2 separate regions of the Homo sapiens genome follow, and region 2 is linked to region 1. The links come from fine-mapping of genetic effects on gene expression. Tissue or cell type: whole blood. Region 1 holds a variant in brackets; the other region holds the start of a gene. All regions are shown on one strand. Distances are from middle to middle.

Evidence for each region. PIP is the estimated chance that this variant, and not a neighbour inherited with it, causes the effect.
Region 2: it holds the start of NAP1L4, and the variant in region 1 is fine-mapped to the expression of NAP1L4 in whole blood (INTERVAL, PIP above 0.99).

The regions. Positions count from the first base shown.
Region 1 is chr11:2,954,298-2,964,902 of GRCh38, reverse strand. It overlaps NAP1L4 (nucleosome assembly protein 1 like 4), which reads left to right. Exons shown (of 16, transcript NM_005969.4): 8 at 152-223; 9 at 4,994-5,133; 10 at 6,359-6,504; 11 at 9,137-9,159; 12 at 10,257-10,376. It overlaps SNORA54 (small nucleolar RNA, H/ACA box 54), which reads left to right and starts at 1,010; the gene lies at 1,010-1,132. RefSeq lists an enhancer at 3,554-4,060. The variant C/T (reference allele first, on the strand shown) is at 4,237.
Region 2 is chr11:2,987,110-2,997,714 of GRCh38, reverse strand. It overlaps NAP1L4 (nucleosome assembly protein 1 like 4), which reads left to right and starts at 5,386. Exons shown (of 16, transcript NM_005969.4): 1 at 5,386-5,461. RefSeq lists enhancers at 5,122-5,416, 5,961-6,817.

The sequences.
Region 1 (10,605 bases):
GTTTCTTCCTGGTAGTTATTACTTTGACAAGGACAGAATTCCAATAGGGCTAGTTATGCAACATCTGGGAGCCTCTGCAACCATGACTCTTCGGGAGAGATGTGTTGTTTTTTTAAAAGCCTGTTGGAATTTTTTTTCTCTTTTTGATTAGGAATATGATGAACCAATCTTGAAACACCTGCAGGATATTAAAGTGAAATTTTCTGACCCTGGACAGCCTATGGTGAGTACTGACTTGACCTTCTGGTTGGCATCAGACAGGGTCAGTCCACAAAGATGGAAGAACTTGGAGCCAGGGGCAAGAAACCCACAAAACCCACACCCAGCCACTCATCTGCTGGGCAGCCCTGGGCGAGACTGCTCTCCAAGAGTTAGACTGAGTACCGCATTGTGTGTTTGCTCCCTGAGTTCGATGGGGATCCCATTGCCTTTCTGTGTCATGCTTGGCACTGTAGTCGTGAGTCTGTGCTGGATGATTTGACAGTGATGCAGACCATGTGATGCCCCAGACCCTGCAGCCAGGTGGGCACCAATGCAGGAGTCAGGCTGCAACTCCTGGGCTGTAGTGGTGCTGTCCACTGTGCCAGGCCTTGGTCTTGTAGTTTGTTTGTTTACTCTGTTGGGTGGAGATGATACCATTCTTTTCCCAAGTGTCTCTGAAGTTTGCATGCATCTAATGTATATGTTTAACGTTTAAAAAGATGGGAGCTATGTACACATAATGATCAGCACTTATTCAGAAATCTGAACCTACTAGGTTTTACCCTAAAAAAAAAAGCGCAAATAAGACTGAAAAATGTTTTCCTGCTCTTTGATTTGTCCTGAAACACGTCTTTACAATATGCTTGCCATGGCATATCATTGCATTAGTAATGTTAGTGGCATGGATCAGCCTACCAGTTGGTAAGATAAGCTTGACTAGGTCAGCCCTTACTTTTATCTGAGGAACCATATGCTCATCTTCAAATGGCCTTGCCAGACTGTCTCATCCCAGCCTGGTTCTCCCAGGGAGCACTGTTCGTAACCCGTTAGCCTGGCTGTAGCTAATGGGTTCCATTCCGGTGCAATAGCATTTCCAGCGACACATGACTGACTGACTGGTGGCTTTCAGTTTCAGGTCTTGGAGACAAATGCTGCATGACGGGCTGTGGGTTAGGGATCTTGGGTGTGGGTGATGGTGGTAGGGGCCTGGGGCCAGTCACCAGTATCTTCCTTCCTCCCCATCTCAGCACTGGGGCCTGGGCTAATGGATGAGGGCCACTAGGAGTGGGATTTCTTCACTGCAAGTGCTGCAAGTAATGCCTGGGGCAGCAGCAGGGGTGGGCAGTGGATGTACCTGTATCTGTCTCTTCTACTTTTTCCTGTCTGTTTTCCACTATGGAAGGTGACATTCAGGTGTCCCTCTCTAGGTGGGGCCCTGGGAGCTGGGAGTGATGCCTGCTCACCAGCTGGGGGCTGCCCTCCAGAGGGGATACCCCATCTTCCTTGCCCCATGTGGGTTATAGCAGGTCCTTCTTCCTGGGCTTGCATCACTTCTGTTTAGACTTTATCACAGGGCCCCCAGGAGCCGCCTGGGCACGTCTGCCTAGTTTGCCCTCGTTGGTGTGCATTCTCTTCCCCATGGTGTGAGCGTGCGGTGCTTTAAGTTTCTGTGCGTTTTTTCTTTGTACTTCTTTCTTACCTGTGATTCATCCAGACGCAATTAACTTTTTTTCCCTTTTGGGTCAGTTCCTTTTTTTTTCCTTTCTTTTTTCTCCTTTTCTTTTCTTCCTTTTTTTTCTTTTTTCTTTTTTTTTTTTTTTTTGAGACCGAGTCTCACTGTGTCACCAGGCTGGAGTGCAGTGATATGATCTCGGCTCACTGCAACCTCTGCCTCCTGGATTCAAGCGATTCTCCTGCCTCAGCCTCCCGAGTAGCTGGGACTACAGGCACGCACCACCACGCCCAGCTAATTTTTGTATTTTTAGTAGAGACGTGGTTTCACCATGTTGGCCAGGATGGTCTCAATCTCTTGACCTCGTGATCCACCCGCCTCAGCCTTCCAAAGTGCTGGGATTACAGGCATGAGCCACCACACCCGGCCTCTTTTTTTCTTATTGGACACCTGTTTGATGATTTCCTAGGTCAATTTTCTTTCTTTCTTAGCCTGTCATCTTATTTTTCTCCATCTCATTGTGACTCATAGACTAGAGCTCTGGTTATGGTAGACTGTGGACCAGTAATTTTTTTTTTTCTTTTTACTTCCCTATTATAAAAGTCATATGTAGAAAATACAGGCAAGTGTAAAGAACACTATACAAATCTGTCTTCTAAAAGTAAATCTCAGCAGCTTAGTGAATTTCCCCATACTCTTTTTCCTTTGTAAAATTATTATGAAGCGTCTAATGCATTTTAAGTTATAAAGATAAATGAAACTTCAAAATGAGTCTTGACTGGTGTTTTTGCAGCATGCCTCATTCCCTTCCCTTGAGCGCTTGCCTACCTGGATACACAGTGCACACGTGTGCCACACGGCTCCTGCCACACCACATGGTGTGTGCACAGTGTCACCCTGCTGCCACATCACACAGGCTTGGCTGGGGGAATAGTTGTTACTGCAGCCATTGGCTATAAAACAGTTTAACATTCCCCTACATGCCCCACCTCCCCCATTGTAAATTGTTGCATTATGATCAGCATACTTGAACCCAAATTTGTGTTAAATTAAATGTTTGATGGTTTCCTTAGTTTAGGTTCCTTTCAGTGTACTTACCAGTCAAAGAAGATGAAGCTTTAGAAGGCCCAAAGGTCGTTCAGTTGGGATTACAGACATGAGCCACTCAGGCCCTGCCTAATTTTGCATTTCTTTAGTTGCTTGTAAGATTGAGCATGGTTAGCATATTTATGGCTTACCTGGCTGTAGTGCGTGTGTGAATGAAGCAGTCTTATTTTCAAGCCACTTTTCATTTGGGCAGCTAAACAGTTTCTTGAATCATCTTCAGTTGTCTTTGGGTTACTCTTGACTGAACAAAGGCAGAGGGGAGAGAAAAAAGGAAAATAGGAAGAAACATGAATCTATCTATAGAAAAGTAGGCTGGGTGTGGTAGCTCATGCCTGTAATCCCAGCACTTTAGGAGGCCAAGGTGGGAGGATTGCTTGACCCCAGGAGTTCAAGACCAGCCTGGGCAACATAGGGAGAACTGGTCTTTAAAAGAGAAAGTAAAAAGGAGGGGAAAAAATGAGTAGGACATGGTGAAGGACCACAAGTCTAATAGTACTATTTGTTTTATTGGGGCCACCCCATGCCCTGGGTTGGTTGTCCACACTGTGGTCACAGCCTTAAACAGTTCTGGAATCATAGCAGTCTCTCCATTGGTTGGCTACTTGTCTTCCCTCTTTATGTTGGTTTTTTTTTTTTTTTTAAGCCGTGGAGGGTTGGGAGAGAAATAGGCATTTTATTTGATGCTGATTCCCTGTAGCTGCCTCTTCCTTTCCTTGTGATTTTTGCCAGGCAGGTGACTGGCCTTTCGTTTGTGTGGTTCATCTGCAGTGCCCTACCCGCTTCCTTTGCTCTTGCCAAGGCCAGTGGAGAGCTCCTAGCCAGATCCTGCTGTCATCCCTTCTAGAAACCGACTAGACTGTCTCCCTGATCCTGACTTCCTAAGCCCTCATGCCCCGCCTCCTCCTCCACCTTTCTTTGAAAGTTGTTTTTTCACTTCTCCTTTGTGCAAGTGGTTTGTTTGAATGTATAAACTTTTTTTGCTGTATATTTTTTTTAGTCCTCTTAATTTCCCCCCCGTTGATGGTTTTACCATTACAATGAAAATGGAAACAGCTGACATTTAGCCAGCCTTGCCTATAAACGCGGCTCTAAGTGATACAGATTAACCACCAAGGCAGCTCCTAGAGAGGGAGAGAGTTATTTCCAGTGTAGAGATGAGGAAACTAAAGCACGGAGACATTGAGTAGCTTCCGCGAGTTGCCTAGCAGTGTAGGCAGAGATGGGATTTGAATCCAGGCTGTCTGAGCGTAGAACTGGTCTTGTAAACTGTCTATAAATTACTCAACCAAGCGCATCTTCCATGTTTTTCTTCTATAAATAGGGATGAGGTCAATGTCTTTGCACATATCGATGCATCCATCCAGGTATTTTTCTCAAATAGAACAAATTCCTCAAAATAGAATTACTGAGTCAGGGAATATGCCTTTTAATTTAATTTTTTTTGATATTGCCAAATTGTCCTTCATAAAATCTGT[C/T]GACAGTACATGAGTGTGCTCAGTACCCCAAAATCCTGGCCGGGTCTACATATTTTTGTACATTTTGCCCCAAAGAAAGGCATCTCATTTTGGTGTTCATGTGTTTTGTTACTCGTGAGCATGAATGCCTTGTTGCTGCTGTTGGTTGTTCTATGCCTGCGTTCATGTTTGCATCCTTTTTCCCGGTGTGCTCACGTCTCTTCCAGGTCTGTAGCGTGCTTTGTAAGTGAGGGATGAGCTTTCTGTCCTTGTAGAGATTTGTCCTTTTCTCCCACCCACCTCCCGGGAGAAAAGCTGTGGGTCACTGCTTTCACTGCACAGCACAGAGTAGAGACCCTGGCTTCCCCCAGCAGGGTGGGGGCTGGGGCTTAGGCTGAGCGGAAAAGGACAGGAGGAGGATGGACTGCTGGTCCCCTTACTTTCCCCTAGTCACCTTCCCTCCTTCCAGGAAGCAAGGGCTGGGAGCAGCTAAGAGAAGCTAGGATTTCTTAGGAGAGCTTGACGCCTATTGGTGAGGAGGCATTGGAGGGGGAACATGCCCCTTACTCATGAACTGAACAGATATTTCCCGCCAGTCCATCGTTGGTTTTTTTAACCTCACGCTAGTCTTTTTTGCGGTGGAGAAGTTTTTCTTGTTCATGGCCCTATCTGTTGAGCTTTCCCAAAATAGCTTCTAGTAAGTGTTGTGTACTCCAAGCAATCTGTCCTCGTTATTTTTCTATTTTAACTGGTGCTTACTCTGAATTTCTACTTTTAGTCTTTTGTGTTAGAGTTCCACTTTGAACCCAACGACTACTTTACCAACTCAGTCCTGACAAAAACCTACAAGATGAAATCAGAACCAGATAAGGCTGATCCCTTTTCCTTTGAAGGTCCTGAGATTGTGGACTGTGACGGGTAAGAAAATGTCATTCTACCTTGTTTTTCTGAAACAAAATCAAAAGATAATTTTGTAACTTGATGGGTAAGATAGAAGTAAGGAATAAAGTACAGTCTTGAGTCTGCTTAAAAGCCTAAAAGCCTGGTAGATGTATATTTCAATAGTCTTTCAGTTTGGGAATGCTCATAGTGCAGAACTTGGAGATGGCGGCTGAACCTGGGAAATGAGTCACGTGGTTGCACATGCAAGCCTTTGGGATAGTGCCCTGTTTCTTCATTTTAATGAAAGTAGTGGATTCTCTAGACATCGTGAATTGAAGTTCTTAAAATTGAATCCATGGATTACCCTCAGCAAATAAATACTTATTGAATGAATGAGTCTGAGTCCAGGGCTATATTGATCAGCTGATTGCTTTGGAAATAGGTGGGGGCAGCATAGCTGTTGTTTGACTCACTGATTTCAGTCTTTATAAATCACTAAAGAGAGAATTTGGTTTAGAATTAATTTCTCCAGGTTGGGTTGACTGAGAAATGGTTTTAGTCTTGACTTGAAACAATTACGTTTATTTACCAGAAGTAAATAGTAATTGTTAATTCAGGACTTTATTAAAATCCTGCTAGAGTAATTTAGAAAGATGATTTTCCAGGGCCAGGACATCATGTGAGAAAAAGGCCTGGCCTTACCAAGCATGTTCTTAAGCGGGCAGTATTGAGATCTGCCAGGTGTTGCCTGGGTCTGTGGTGATTGTGTGTTAGAGAGAGCGTGCTGTGCTCAGCCCTCGCCAGCATCCCTGGGGCTGGAGTGGTCTGCACTGGCCATCAGTATTCCCGGTGGCCACCTCTTTCCTTTTTTCAGCTTGTCGTGCTCAGTTGGCTGCTTTGAACAGCAGCAACTCCTCCTTCCTTGGGAAACCGCGGACAAGTTCTTGTGCATCATGCAGACTTGACGGGGCTTTGCCACAGAATATACATTTCAGAGTCCTGATGAAATGTCTTGGGAAAATAATACCATTGTTCCAGAAGTCTGAAGTTCCAGTGGTCACACCCAAGTTGAAAGAGGACCAGGCTGTTTCTCTTTTTGCCAACCTCCAGATGAACTTCATGGGCCATTGTATTTGGTTTGCAGATTGGTTTTATTTCGTTTTCCAGGTTTGGCATAGAGCTGTGGTTTGCTTCCTGCATGCATTTGTAATGGATTTTTCTCATGGATTGTGTGTTCCTGACAGCTGTCTTGTCCTGGTAGGTGTACTATTGACTGGAAGAAAGGAAAGAATGTTACTGTCAAAACCATCAAGAAAAAGCAGAAGCATAAGGGTCGAGGCACTGTTAGAACAATTACGAAACAAGTACCCAATGAGTCCTTTTTCAACTTCTTCAATCCATTGAAAGGCAAGTCTGTTGGTTGTTAATATTCATTATGTTCTTATATAAAATAATTTTGGTCACCTGATAGATTCCTAACACCCAGAGACTTTAGTCCTCTTTTTTCAGGCAAGTGTGGTCAGTAGGGGCACATTGCTGTGTCCCAGGCTGTTCTGTTGGTGCGCTGGCAAGTTTATCGCGGGGGGCAGAGGTAGCTAGGACAGTAAGAGTAGGATTGTCATCTTCTGCAGGAAAGGGAAGAGCTTTACTCTGCTTGGCTGTAGCCCAGGCAAAAACTTGCAGTTCTGTTTTAAGAAAACTGAATCGAGTATTTGCACCTGGGCTGCTTCCTCACTTGGACACCTGGAGCACCCTTCTCCACCAGCTGGCATTTCTGCCCCGCTGTTGTGTCTGGTTCGCACCCCCCGGGGACCACTCCCAGCCTCGGAGAGCTGCTGGGTTTGCTCTGCAGGTACCCGTTACTGCTGTACGCTGGTTCTAGTTGTGCTGCTTTTGGATCATCTGCTTAGTCCCCCTTTTCTTGTAATTTTTTATGCATAATTTGATAGAATTTTTTGGAATTTATATATTGTAAGAAACACAAGTAGTTGGGACTTTCATTTTTGAAAAACATCGGCAGAATCACAGCTTGGAAGCTGCTTCTTTTTGTTTATTTATTTATTTTTTAAATTTTCCTAAGTGGTAAAATAAAGATGAGACCTTTGAGCTAGTAAAGGTTGACCAATTGATTTTAAGAGTAAATTTCTTGGGATTTTTCATATAATTTCCTAATCGCGAGAAAATGTGAAGGTCAAGCAACTTGTCAGTGTTAAAATATCCATATTCTCTTTAGTTTCCATGAACTAAAACATAATTTGAAGTGAAGAGATGCCAGCCCCTGCTGCAGATAATCAGTGAGTGTTTGTTTGTATGTGGGGCCACAGGGCGGATCTCTTCTCCAGTCTGAGTGATTGATTTTTTGATTTTGTCTCTGAGCTTAGCACCCTTATTTATCAAGCTGCCCTTCAGAGTTCAGTCCATTATTTTAATTGTGGTGCCTATTTTCTGCAATTAGACTTTGAACCTAGAAGATGCAAATACATACGGTTTGGGGAATGAGAGCAGTCATAAATTTAGATATTACATTTCCTTTTTTTGGAAGATTCCTTTTAGACACTTGGGTTGGGCATACTGGAGATTGTCTGTGAATTCAGCGTGAAGAAGGGAGGCTTTAATTTCTGGAATCACTTTGTGTAGGAAGTTCTCTTAAAACTGATTTAAAAATAATTTTTAGGATAAAAATGGAGTTGATAATGGACTCAAGGGAATTTTTAAGTGTTTTTTTTTTTAGATTCTAAAACTTTTAGGGTATGATGGTTGCACAACTCTAAAATTAACGTACTGAAAGTCATAAAGTTGTACATTTAGAGTGTATGCCTTTTAATGGTATGTAAATCCCATCAGTAAAGCCACTTTTAAAGTAATCAAACACATAATACCAAATGGTAAGTGCTTTGAAAAAAATTGAGGATGGCTGCGGAATAGGTAATGGGGTAGTGAAGGAACAGACAAAATGGACTCCTGTGGTGTGAAGTGAAGGAGGCATTAGCTAGTGAGTCCAGCTCCTTTGTCCTTAAAACTGCAAAGCCAGTCCAGAAGTATGAGTGTTCAGAGTCCTTGTACTATTCATGACTTGGGCCAGAGTGCCCTGGGGAGCATGCTGCTCCAGCATTTAGACACCCAGCCATGCTCCTAACCCATGTCTAAAACCCCTGGGTGATGCTGGCACACCGAGGCTTGGGAACTCTGCCTCACTCATGGGTGGTGTTTACGCACCCAACATTCATGTCTCAGCAGCAAACAGCAAGTGCTGCCAGGGTTGTGGTCGCTTAATGGGAAGGGAGACTCAGAGAGGAGAGCCCAGTGAAGATTGAAAAGGCAGGTATGAGACTAAGCAGAGTAAACATTCAACTCCTGATGAAGCTCAGGGTCTTGTAGTAAATGTTTCTAAAATCAGGGGGTTGGATCTTCTACCAGTTGAACGTTGCACAGCTTCATTGAGTGTGGTTAGAAGTCCCTATCTGTCTTGGTGGGCTTAGCTCGTCTGAGCATCAGCTTTCGCTGAGGAATTGCGCCACTCTACAGGGGCCCCTGGTGGGCATTCCAGCACTCTCCAAACAAACAGAAATGCAGTTTCTGTCTCGCTGATTTGCAGTGCCTTAGTAACACTCACAGCTTATAAGGCTTAAGGACTTTCTCTTTCCTGCACCATCATGTATAGTTCTGCGGGACATGAGTTAAGTTTCCCCATAAAGCACAAATGCACTGAATGGCCACAGCCTGGGGGCTGTTTGCCATTCCTCCTGTTAATATATTAACTCTCTCAAAATGATCTTCTCAAGCTTGAGTGCCAGCCCATGGCACATGATGGAGGAGGAGAAGGGAGGGGGGCATAGAGGCACTCAGGCCAGCTTCAGAAGTGGTGGATGGAGCTTGCAAAGATGTCTGTGAGGAGATGCAAGGCTTTGGGGATTTCTGTTAAACCTCGAGGTGAGAAATGTTACATTTTATCTACCAGCACAGCTTCCTCCTGTGTGGGCTTTAAAATTCTGGGAGTTGTCACTGTAATTTAAATATGTTTTGTCTTTTCTTTTTCTAGCATCCGGGGATGGAGAATCACTGGTAAGATTTGTTGTTAATAGTCTTATTTTCCTGTTGAAGTCTCTCCTGAGTGAATGTCTACTTGTCTACTTGTTAAAAAAAGTCCAGTCCTGGCTGTGTGTGGACTGGGTATGCCAGTGATCTTAATGCTTTGGGAGGCTGAGGTGGGAGGACTGCACGAGTCCAGGAGTTTGAGACCAGCCTGGGCAACATAGCACAACCCCATCTCCACAAAAAATTAAAACCAAATAAATTAGCCAGCCGAACATGGTGGTTCACGCCCGTAATACCAGCACTGTGGGAGGCCAAGGTGGGTGGATCACCAGAGGTCAGGAGTTCAAGACCAGTCTGGTCAACATGGTGAAACCCCGTTTCTGCTTAAAATACCAAAAAAAAAAAAAATTAGTTGGACACGGTGGCAGCGCCTGTAATCTCAGCTACTCAGGAGGCTCAAGCAGGAGAATCACTTGAACCCGAGAGGAGGAGGTTGCAGTGAGCTGAGATTGCACCACCGTATTCCATTGGGCGACAGAGCAAGACTCCGTCTCAAAAGATAAAATAATAAATTAGCTGGACATGGTGGTGCACTGTGTAGTTCCAGGGTCGCTGGGGCCCAGGAGCTTGAGGCTGGAGTGAGCTGTGATTGCACCACTGCCCTCCAACCTGGGTGATAGAATAAGACCCTGTCTCTTAAAAAAAAAAAATCCATTTCTGTTTCCTAAAACTCTGGGATTAATTTGAAATCATTACACATCTAAGTAAAAGTATGTGTTTCATATGTTGATTTCAGTAGCAAATGTGCAGTGCTTTAATACTGCCTGTTTCCCATATGTGAGACTGATACCGCCTACTCTGGGTGAGACCTTTGGACAAGTTGTGGAGCTGTAGGGCCCTCACTTCCCACTTTCTCTGCCATTTTGCTTCAGTAGCTCTTTAAAGCTACTTAAAGTTGTTTTAAAGGGGCTTTGAGTGTCTAGTGGCTGTCCCCCAGCAGTGCAGGAGTTTGGTGTTTTAAGTTAAGTAAATCAAAAGTGAGGGGCTGAGGTTTGGCTGAGGGTGGTGAAGTGAATGTTTTTATCCCATTAAAATGAGTTAACACGTAGGTTTTTCCTCCTCAGGATGAAGATTCTGAATTCACATTAGCCTCTGATTTTGAAATTGGACACTTTTTCCGTGAGCGGATAGTCCCGCGGGCTGTGCTGTACTTCACTGGGGAGGCCATAGAAGATGATGACAATGTATGAGGCTCGGGGAAGGGGGGCTTCCACCTGGGTGCTTATCTCTGTTGGTGCAGAGTGGCCCTGAATTGTGGCTTAGGAAACCCCCATGCCTAATCTTTTTATTACATCATCAGCCAGATATGTAGTCCAAGCTGCTGTCCTTGTTGTGGGGGGAATACGCTTGAAGAGGAGAAGTCTGAGGAACAGAGCAGGAAAAGCAGGTGTCTGTGAAGCAGTTTCAGAGGTG
Region 2 (10,605 bases), 33 kb before region 1:
TTCCCCCAAAGATGCCAGCTAAGGGAAGAAGCACCAGGATCAGACATCTCCATTCTGCAACCCCGAATGAAGTCATTGATTCAGGCAGGGGCTGACCGCGGATGCTGAGACCCCTGGATGAAAGCTGGTAGGTGCTGGATAATTTGATGCCAAAGTGTCACCTTGTGAGTAACTTGTAGGTTTCCAGGAGGGGATACGTGTTACTTTCTGATGTTGGGCCCTGGCTGTCAGCCCCCCAACAAAAAGAAGGATTTCCTCTAAAAGTATAAGTCAGTATTGAATGCAGCTTTTAGGCTAGGGCTCCTTAACCTTGAATGTGCGTATAAACTGCCCAGGGTTGCTTGTTAACACAAATTTCAGTTCAGGTCTAGGAGGAGCCCAAGATTCTGCATTCCTGCAGTCTCCCAGCTGTGGCCTGTGCTGCCGGGCTACAGCCCCCTCAGGAGCAAGGCTGTCCAGCTCACTTCCTGTCTGCAGGAAATACTGGGAACAGAGGGAGAATGCAGGTGAGGCCATGAAGCAGCCACCACATTTGTGCAGAAGGTGGGGCATTCTGCCAGATGCCCGGCTGGCATCTTCAATACGTCTGCGTCAAAGGGAGCAGAATAGGGCAGAAGAGAAGGACTGGGAGAGACTCGAGAAACAAAACCACCAGGTTTGAGGGATAATCTTTGAAGGATTTGAACAAACCTGCTGTAAAGACATTTCAAAGGGGGTCGGGCACAGTGGCTCATGCCTGTAATCCCAGCACTTTGGGAGGCTGAGGCAGGCGGATCACCTGAGGTGGAGAGTTCAAGACTAGCTTGACCAACATGGAGAAACCCTGTCTCTACTAAAAATACAAAAAAATTAGTTGGGCATGGTGGCACATGCCAGCTACTCCGGAGGCTGAGGCGGGAGAATCGCTCGAACCCGGGAGGTGGAGGTTGCGGTGAGCCGAGATCTCGCCATTGCACTCCAGCCTGGGCAACAAGAGCGAAACTCCGTCTCAAAAAAAAAAAAAAAAAAAAAATTTCAAGAAATTTGAATGACCAGGTATTGGATGACAGTCAAGATTTTTGCTAATTTTGTTAGTGTGATAATGGCGGCTGCATGGAGAGGTGTCTTTAATGAGATACAAAGTAGCCTGAAACCTGTAACTCAGTATCCTTTAGCCAAGGAAACTGATGAAGTGCAGCCGGCACTGCAGCAGCAGCAATCCCTTCCACAGTGTATCCTCTTTACTGGCCTGTGCTGGAAACCATGTATCAAATATCCTGACAACTGGGCCATGAGGAAATACCCTTGTCTTTAGCTGCCACCACTGGGGTGAGCGGAGGTTGGCCCAAAGCCGCGGTGCCATCCAAGGAGGCAAGAAGGAGTGGCGTGTGCCCCATTTCCAGTGGTGGCTGCACAAAAACGTATCCAGATTGCCAGGGGCACGCCTGGTCCCCACAGCTGGTGAAGGCCTGGCTCCACCTGGACTGCAGTAGGGCCAGGCTGTGGCCCCTGTTTCACGCCCCCCAATTCAGAGTGATTCTGGGCCGCTTTTCTGCCTGGAGTTTCCCCGTTCTGAGGGCCCACTGCCCGGTGCGCCTTCTCTCTGCCCTTCCCTGACTTCCTCCAGTCTCCCCAGGCTGGGTCCGAGGGCCTGCAGTGACAATAGGCTGGCTGGGCCCAGGCCATTGGCTTGGCCCCCAAGAGGACCCCAGCACCTCCCTACCCTGCAATCTCTTGCTGTCAGGCTGCAGCAGATCCTTCTGGAACAACGTGGGGTGGACACTTTTCTTGTATAATATTAGTTTGCCTGTGGAAAGTGTTTCTTTTCTGTACATGAAAGCTCTGTTCAGCTGTAAGAGCCAGATTTACATCTTCCTGTTTTTCCCCAAAGAGCAATCTTTGGTGTCTTTACTATAAAAACGTCATGTATTCATTATTTAAAAATAAATAATACGGAAAACTTCCAATATAAAGTAGAAACTGAAAGACCCCGTGCCCTACCTCTCAAATCCCTACAACATTTGGGGTACAGTCTTCCAGATGCCTTCTTTCTGAGGCCGGGAAGCTTGCAAAGGCACTCCCTGTCTGCGCACCCCTCTTGTGTGGAGTACGCCATGGGTGTTTTCTGTTCTCCATATACCAGGAGAAACCAGCCACCTCTCTTGGATGTCTCCAGGGCCCCACTTTGTTAATGCCCCACAGGCTGAGCCCCCAGCCTACTGAGGGGGCTTTGGGCATTTCTGAGGCCTCGGCTCCAGCTCTTGGCGGCTGCGAGGTCTTTTGAGGAGTAGCGCCCCCACCACAGGTGAAGGGCATGGCCGCCCCCTCCAGGGCCAGAGCCACTTAGCTGGGGGCGTTAGAGGGGTTTCTCTGTTTTCTCCTCTGTTGAATGGGGCAGTGATTGCTGCCTCTACTTCCAGGCCAAGGTGTAGCCATTGTCAGTAGCGCCCAGGTAAGGGCACAGCTCGCCAAGTGCCAGGCACTTTTCCGGGTGCTGGCAATGTGAAGAAGAAACACGTGGTGTCTGTCCGGGACTGTCTCCCGGAGCCTCAGTGAGGACAAGGCAGCCAAGAGCAGAACTACAGGCAAGGTAGCCTCTGGAGGGGACTCTTGATCTCCAGGTTGGAGGAGGCTGAGGCAGCAGAGGGGTTGTAGACAGGTGGGCTCATGCCTGAGGCCTGGCAGAGGCAGCGCTGGGAAAACAGGAATGAAACTCACCAAGCGCCAGCTACCCTGGGAGTCCTGATCCCAGTGGCCCTCAGCTCTGGCTGCATGTCAGTGTCATCTGGGGACTTCTTTGTTTTGACACAGGGTCTTGGTCTTGCTCTGTCACCCAGGCTGGAGTGCAGTGGCATGATCACAGCTCACTGCAGCCTCTAAATCCCAGGCACAAGTGATCCTCCCACCTCAGCCTCTCAAGCAGCTGGGACTATAGATGCACCACCATGCCTAGCTAATTTTTAGATATTTGGTAGAGATGGGATCTCATCATGTTGCCCAGGCTGGTCTCGAACTCTTGGGCTCAAGCAATCTGCCCACTCGACCTCATTACCTAATTGCATCTGTGAAGACTCTATTTCCAAATGAGAATCTTCCAAGGAGAGAAACCACCAACCACCAAGAGAAAAACACCACCACCACAATCATTCCAGTTCCAGCAGATCTCCCAGGGAGCAGGTCCAGCTGCCCCCAGCCCCAAGGCCCAGCTCCCTCAGAGGATCCACCCACCCGGATGCCACCCCCACCAACCCCAACATCCAGGAGCAGGGGGATCCCATTACTGCAAATGGTCTTGAGACTTTATTAGATGGGAGGAAGGACCCTCCAAACTTCAAATGCCCAGGTTCTTGTGTCATTTCTATCATTGTTTATGCTTCCGCAAAGCATAAAGCATGACCTTTGTAGAAAAGTCTGAAAGTCTAAATAAGTAAAATAGGAATTGAGAGCACACACACCCTCTCCTAAAACACAGATGGCCAGACAGGACTGAGCACGCTGTGTGGGTCAGGCCTCAGCCATGCACCGGTCACCTCTGAGGGGTTTTTATGTTTTTTGTTTTAATTAGTTTTTTTTTTATTTTTTATTTTTTGAGATGGAGTCTCGCTCTGTCGCCCAGGCTGGAGTGCAGTGGTGCGATCTCGGCTCACACTGTAAGCTCCGCCTCCCGGGTTCACGCCATTCTCCTGCCTCAGCCTCCCGAGTAGCTGGGACTAGGGCGTCCGCCACAATGCACGGCTAATTTTTTTGTATTTTTAGTAGAGACGGGGTTTCACCGTGTTAGCCAGGATGGTCTCGATCTCCTGACATCGTGATCGGCCCACCTCGGCCTCCCAAAGTGCTGGGATTACAGGCTTGAGCCACCGCGCCCGGCCTTTTTTTTGTCTTTTTGAGACAATGTCCCCCTCTGGTTACCCAGGCTGGAGTGCAGTGGCCCAATCTCTGCTCACTGCAGCCTTGACCTCACGGGCTCAGGTAATTCTCCCACCTCAGCCTCCCAAGTAGCTGGTATTACAGGCCTGAGCCACCACGCCTGGGTAATTTTTTGTTGTTGTTGTTTTTGGAGCAGGGGAAGGGTGCTCTATGTTGCCCAGGCTGGACTTGTTGCCTCTGCCTCCCAGAGTGCTGGGTTTACAGGCCTGAGCCACGGCGCTCCGCATTAATTTCTTTTTAGAGATGAGGTTTCACTATGTTGCCCAGGCTGGACTTGAATTTCTGGGCTCAAGGAATCCTCCTGCCTCAGCCTCCCAGCTTACCTCTGAGGTTTATAACCGACGCTATGTTCTTAATCCCTCAACCAGGAGCCTTTAAATGGTTTCAAATTTTCCCCATTACAGGAATAACTTGCTAATAATAATAATAATTAGCAATTGTTTCAAAAGTAACGTCATCCCAAAAGAGAACGTTTCTGAAAAAAATGCACATTAGACTTGAAGACCCCCAATGGCACGGTTGAACATGGAAATGAACCAGCCTCAAAAGTCCCAGCGTAGGGGTTATTTTCCAATCAAATTGGATGCCTTTCTACAAAATGTGATGTGCACAGGCTGGGGCTGGTACCTTCACCCCAGCCCAGAGGGCACCATGAGAGGGAGAACAGGGCGGGCGAAACAGGCCAGCTCCTCCCCAGCCCTCTGCCCTGCTCTGCTTCAGGGGGCTGATCTGAGGGCCCAGTGCGCACTGCTTTTCCTCCTTGTCCGACAGGGTCTCCCGCAGGCCAGAACTAGGCTGCTGGGACACTGCGGGGCTCAGGGCGTGGGGGAAGAGATGCAGGCAGTGGCTAGTCCCGTCCTGTCCGCGGAGGTGACCCAGCCCCGACCTCTTCGCAGAGGAAGTGTTCTCCAACCTGGGACCTGGGGGATGAGCGGGGGTTAGGCTTACGTCCCAACCACTAACGGGGCTGGTTGAAAACGGCTCCCAGGCGGAGGGGCCCTCCGCGATGTTCTCAAGGAGTAGCGCGAGGGGACGACATGGGAGGTGGGGTTCTCACATCAGCGGGCGCACGGAGTGCTGGAGGCACCGACCCGCCGCGGACGGGATTGAACTAGGGAACTGGGAGGGCGCAGGAGATAAAGACGGCTGGGGCCGGGGCCCACGGAGAGGGGTGGTGCCCAGTGTCCCGCGAGGATGTGGTGCCACCCGGGGAAGGTCCCGGGAGCGGGGACCCGGGACCCCCCGGAACCACACACGCGGTCTCCACCTTGCCCCGCCCCATTTAAAGAGGCGGAGGAACGCAGGGCGCGCGCCGCGCGGAGGAATATTTGCATATGGCGCGGCGTTTCTTCGGAGGCTTGTGATTGGTTGCTGACTGCGGCGCGAAGCGCAGTTGACTTGCGCCGCGCTCGGCGAATCGCAGCCTGTCTTGCTCGCGGAGAGAGGAGCTAGGAGCCTCGGCCAATGGGAGCCGGCGTTGTTGGAGGCCACGGCGGCGCAGCCCCAAAGCGAGCGAAGCTAGGGTCGCCGCCACTGCCGCAGGAGGCGTGAGGTGCGGAGACACGGGTGCTGGGCCGGTAACGGCGCGCTGGGGAGGGCGGCCGGGCCCGGACGGGCGGGTGGGGCCGCGGGTCCGGCGCGGGCGCGGCGGCGGCCATCTCTGGAAGCCTCGGGGCGGTGGGGCAGGGGCGGGGCCGCGTTCTGGTCGGGGCAGGCAGCGGCGGCCGCGGCGGGGCCTGGGGCTTGGGGCCTGGAGCCCGGGCCTGGGGCGCTGGCGGGAGGCCCCTCCCAACTCCCGGCGCGCCTCGCCCGGCTGCCCGCCTCACTGAAGGTCAAGGCGCTTTGTTCTGCGCCGCGGGCGGCCTCCTGGGCGGCGGCCCCTTGGAGGAGGCGAAGACGGCGAGAGGCGGCGGCCGCTCAAATCTCCCGCTAGCCCAGCCCGCCCCGCGTGCGGGGGCTGTGGCGGTTACACGGCCGGGCGCGCCGGAGCGTTCAGGCTTCCCGTTTTTAAGGTGGAGACGTCCAGGACTTCTTTATTAGATGTTTAGGAATTTGAGTTTTTCCGTAGGGCGGTTGTCATCGTGAGCCTCTGTGGGGTCAGGCTGGGCTAACTGGGGTTTTGATGTCAGTTTGGTGTGGCCGAGGGCATGTCTGACGGGGAAGAAAGTCCTTGGCGTTGCTTCTTAGCTGTTGGGAGCTGTGCGGTGGGAGCGAGCTGGGCGGCGTGCGCTCCCCGAGGACTGGCCTGAGTGGCCTTAGACTAGTTACTCACGGGACTTGGTTTCCCAGCCAAGGTGGGCAGCAAGTCTGTTTACTATTTAAAACCGTCTTTCACAAGGGAAAAGCAAAATCTCCAAAAAAAAAAATTGTACATGTTATGGATGGGAAAGTGCCATGCTTTTCTTTCAGTTCAGAGATGGTGGAAGAGGTCACATTTGTATTTTTTGACCTGACCAGAGTCTTTGTTGTTTTCAATTTTCCCCTTCTGAATGCTTTCCGTTCACCCCAGCGAAGGATGGCCTGGTCATGATAAGACTTTCCACCGTCCACAGTTCTCTAAGTCTGATTGCGGGGCAGGAGGCAGACATGTTTAGGGTCCAGTAAAGGGGACTCCAGCCTTGGGACCTTTAGACCCTAACGTGTGTGTCACATCACCTGCCTGGGTGACTGTGCGCTCCTCTGGCAGGAAGGTCCGCCATTTCATTATGTTCTCGGAGGAATCGTCGGGGCACATTCGTCTGTGCTTTGGTTCGCATCCCCCAGTCTGCATTACTTTTTCCTGTAGTAACCCGTGCCTTATCCTCCTGCATTAGGTTTACGGGGTGAAAATAGACTTTTAAAAATTCTCTTACCTTAGAAATATACAAATATGTAGATTAGGTTGTTGGACCTTAAAGGTAAGTCTTTCTAAGTTACTACCTTCCTGTAATAGTAACTATACCTCTAAATGACTAATACCTGCACTGCGCACCAGGGACTCTTTCAGCCTGTTTGCGTGTGTTAACTCATTTCATAATCTAATAACCTGAGATAGATGCTATTGTTTTTCCATTTAACTACTCTGGAAGCTGAGGCCCTGGGAGGTTAGGTATAATGACTTGTCCGAGGTGACAAAGCTTAAAGACCCAGGCAGTTTTAACTGTACCCAGGGTTACTGCTTCTGTAGAGGGAATGAAAGAAGTTTTAATGAGAAATTGTTTTCATCATTGTGCTAAGCTTAACTGAACTCTAGCTTACGAGGTTTTGAGCTGGTTGATCATTTCCATCTCAAAATTCTCTTATTCCACAGAATGCCAAATGCCTCCTATAGTAGAATTTTGAGATTCAGACTGGGATGAGCAATTGCTAATGGAATAAATAATATGCAAATGTAAAATGAAGTTCAGAGAAAGCAACGTGGTGATAGAATGGGAAAGTAATCCAAAGATAAAATGAGTGACTACAGAGAGAGAGAAAATTAGTTATTTAGTAGTAGTTCACAAGTTTACTTAGAGATATTTTTACTAGAATTTCAGGGCCTTATGATGTGATTTTTATGAACCATTTTAACACGTTACTGCCGTCTTAAATAGCTGTTATTACATATCCAATTGCAGTCTTTTTTTTTTCCTGGTTGAGCAGTGTTAGCTTCAGAATGTCTGCAGTTATTTGTGCCTATATGTCATATAGGCACATATAACACTTTTGTGAATTTTGTTGTGTAAGCTTTAAATCCGGTACTGTTTTTCAAAATGAATATGGAGTAGTCATTGGAGAAATTGGTTGAATTCTTTGCAGTAGCAAATAAATTTTAATCATTTTTAAGTTTGATAACTTTGGTAAACTGAATTCTGAAAAGTTTACACATGTTTTAGGATGTCCTCAAAATGTACAGGGCATTGTGTTTTGCAAATTAGCCATTTAGCCATCAGATTCTTCTGTAGAATTTTGATCTTTTTGCCCATATGAGAGGTAGTTCTTATTTGTATGGAGGTTAAGTACCTGCGGATGGGATGTGTTCATCACCACTTTACAGTATGAATTTGAATTTGAAACTGAAATGAAAACTTCCTAACCTGTCAGAGTTTTTAGTAGCCTCTTGTTATTGACCGCATGTTAATTCCCTTTGTTAGCTATTCGCAGCTAAGTGTGGGGACTGAAATCTTTATTTTGTTTTCCTTCTTTTGAGCAGTTGATAGTCTCTAGCATCAGGAGGAGGTGACCTCAAATATGTATGTATATATAGTAGTGCTTTTCTTCCTTCCCTTTAGTTGTCTGCAGTTTAAAAATTATTGTGATAAGTTTATGTTGTACTTCCAAAAATGTTGCCAAAGAGCCTATATTTTTCAGTTTGTTTTGGAAGAAAAATACTTTGTGGGCAAGAAGGTGATTTAAATTCCTGACGGCCTAAGAGGCGTCAGCTGTGTGAAATAGGCGAGTGCTGTTACTGCTTGAAACCATGATGGTTTATATTTGAATAAGACAGCAGAGATGAGCTTGTTGGGAGTTTGGCCTGAGATTGCTAGCTAAGGAATGCTTGCTTTTTTGCTTAAAGGGAAAAGTGTTTTAGGCTTCCAGAGTAGAAATCTGATATTACTTCGTTTGATTCTTCGACCACTATGGTGATAGGAAGTAGCTGATCTCTGCAGGAAACTGCTGTTACCTGGCCTCAGCTGAATTTTTGTGGGACCTCCTGAGGTAAGCAAATTTATGCCTCCCGAAACTATAGTTGTAAGGTTTGTCTTTGAGCATATAGTAATGGAAAACCCTTATCAGTAGGTAGATAGTAAATAATTTTGTATTTGGCTGCTAATGAAATTTTTAAGAAATAGTTTGTGGTGATATAAATTAGTTTTCATCTGGCAGTCATTGGTTTTCCACCCTGCCCTCTTAAGAGAGAACAGGGTTGCTTTACTTTGTTTGCCAGAGCTTTACATTTTGCATTTAGTAACAGAGGCATTGTGTTTTTATAGTATGAAAACAACGAAAGATCACTTTGTGATCTTTACTTTTTGATTTTGACCACTTCCTGTGTAACCTTAAGTTTCTTACAAGTATCCCCTGTTAACTGTTAAAAACGAAATGTATGTTCATTTCATGTCCTTGGGACTTTTAAAAATGCGCTGTGCATTATCTGGAAAAGCCTGTTCAAAAACAAGATGAGATAATTTCTGTTTAATTTGTGGTAGAAAGAATGACTGTGCACTTTTATGTGCAAAGGTTTTAAGTATAATAATTAAAATAGTACTTGTTTACTCAGTTACCGAAAAGTAGCTTTCAGTGATTTGCATCTGTTTACTTATTCATGAGCATCTTCTATGTACTGGGCACAGTTCTAGGTACTGGGGCCTCCCGCAGAATAAAACAGAAGTCTTTGTCCTTGTTTCTGCTATGGGAGACAGACGAACAAGTTCAATGGTGGCAGGTGCTTTTGAAAAACAGTGCAGAGGAGTAGGGACTTTGGTGGTTGCAATATGAAATAGGTAGAGAGGGAAGTGCCTTATTGACAAGATGACAAGATCTTTTAATATGTACTGGATTAAGAAGTTAGCCTCATTGAGTCGTATGCTAATGAACTGCCCAGAAAAGAAGGGTGGAGGAGATGGGAGTGCAGCAGTAAAGACTGCTGCGCCCCAAGTAAAATGTAGTGTTTTGGTTAAGGAAAGGAAATCATTTTTTGCTTTCTTCTTGAAACCCCAGGGCTTGGCACCGCAGAAGTCTCTGAAGAGACAGTCTGCTGCTGTTTGGAGGCAGGTATTTCAGTAGATCTTGTAACCAAACATGAATGACTAAGGCAGTGTTTCTCCTCTGTGTCTTCAGAAACTGCTTGAGATGTGTGCATGCAGTCCCGGGCACCATGCGTGCTGGGTACTGGTAACACAGAGACAAGTTGTCATTTGGTAGCAGTGAGTTAAGCAAAGATTTCTTGGCAACCAGTCTCATCCCGAGTCTGTTGCTGGGCCTTGGGACTTCTGTATTGAGCAAGTAGACAGGGTCCCTGCCCTCGTGGAACTTGTTCTTTAGTGGGCAAACATGTATTATTCATTGCTTTTTTTTTTTTTTTTTTTTTGAGGTGGAGTCTCGCTCTGATGCCCAGGCTGGAGTGCAGTGGCGCGATCTCGGCTCACTGCAGCCTCTGCCTCCCAGGTTCAAGCAATTCTCCTGTCTCAGCCTCCCAAGTAGCTGGGATTACAGGTGCTCACCACCACGCCTGGGTAATTTTTGTATCTTTTTAGTAGAGACGGGTTTCACCATATTGGTCAGGCTGGTCTCGAACTCCTGACCTCAGGTGGTCTGCCCACCTGGGCCTCTCAAAGTGCTGGGATTACAGGCGTGAGCCACCGTGCCCAGCCTATTCATTGCTTTTAAACATTATCATGGGCCTGGCATGGTGGCTCACGCCTGTAATCACAGCACTTTGGGGGAAGCTGAGGTGGGCAGATCACCTGAGGGTCAGGAGTTTGAGACCCTCTCCCGCCTTGGGTGACAGAGCGAGACTCCACCTCAAAAAACAACAACAACAACAAAAAACCCAGAACATTATCATGGAAAGTTTAACAACATGATTAACTTCTGATCCTGGAGAGTGGTAATGATAGACTGGATCAGGAGTCTACTGGCCTGGGCAATAGAAATGAAATCTGGACTGTCTCAGGGCTTCGTATAATCACCAGCTTTTGTGGGTGGGGATGTTGGGGTGTCCTACAGGGGTATCTT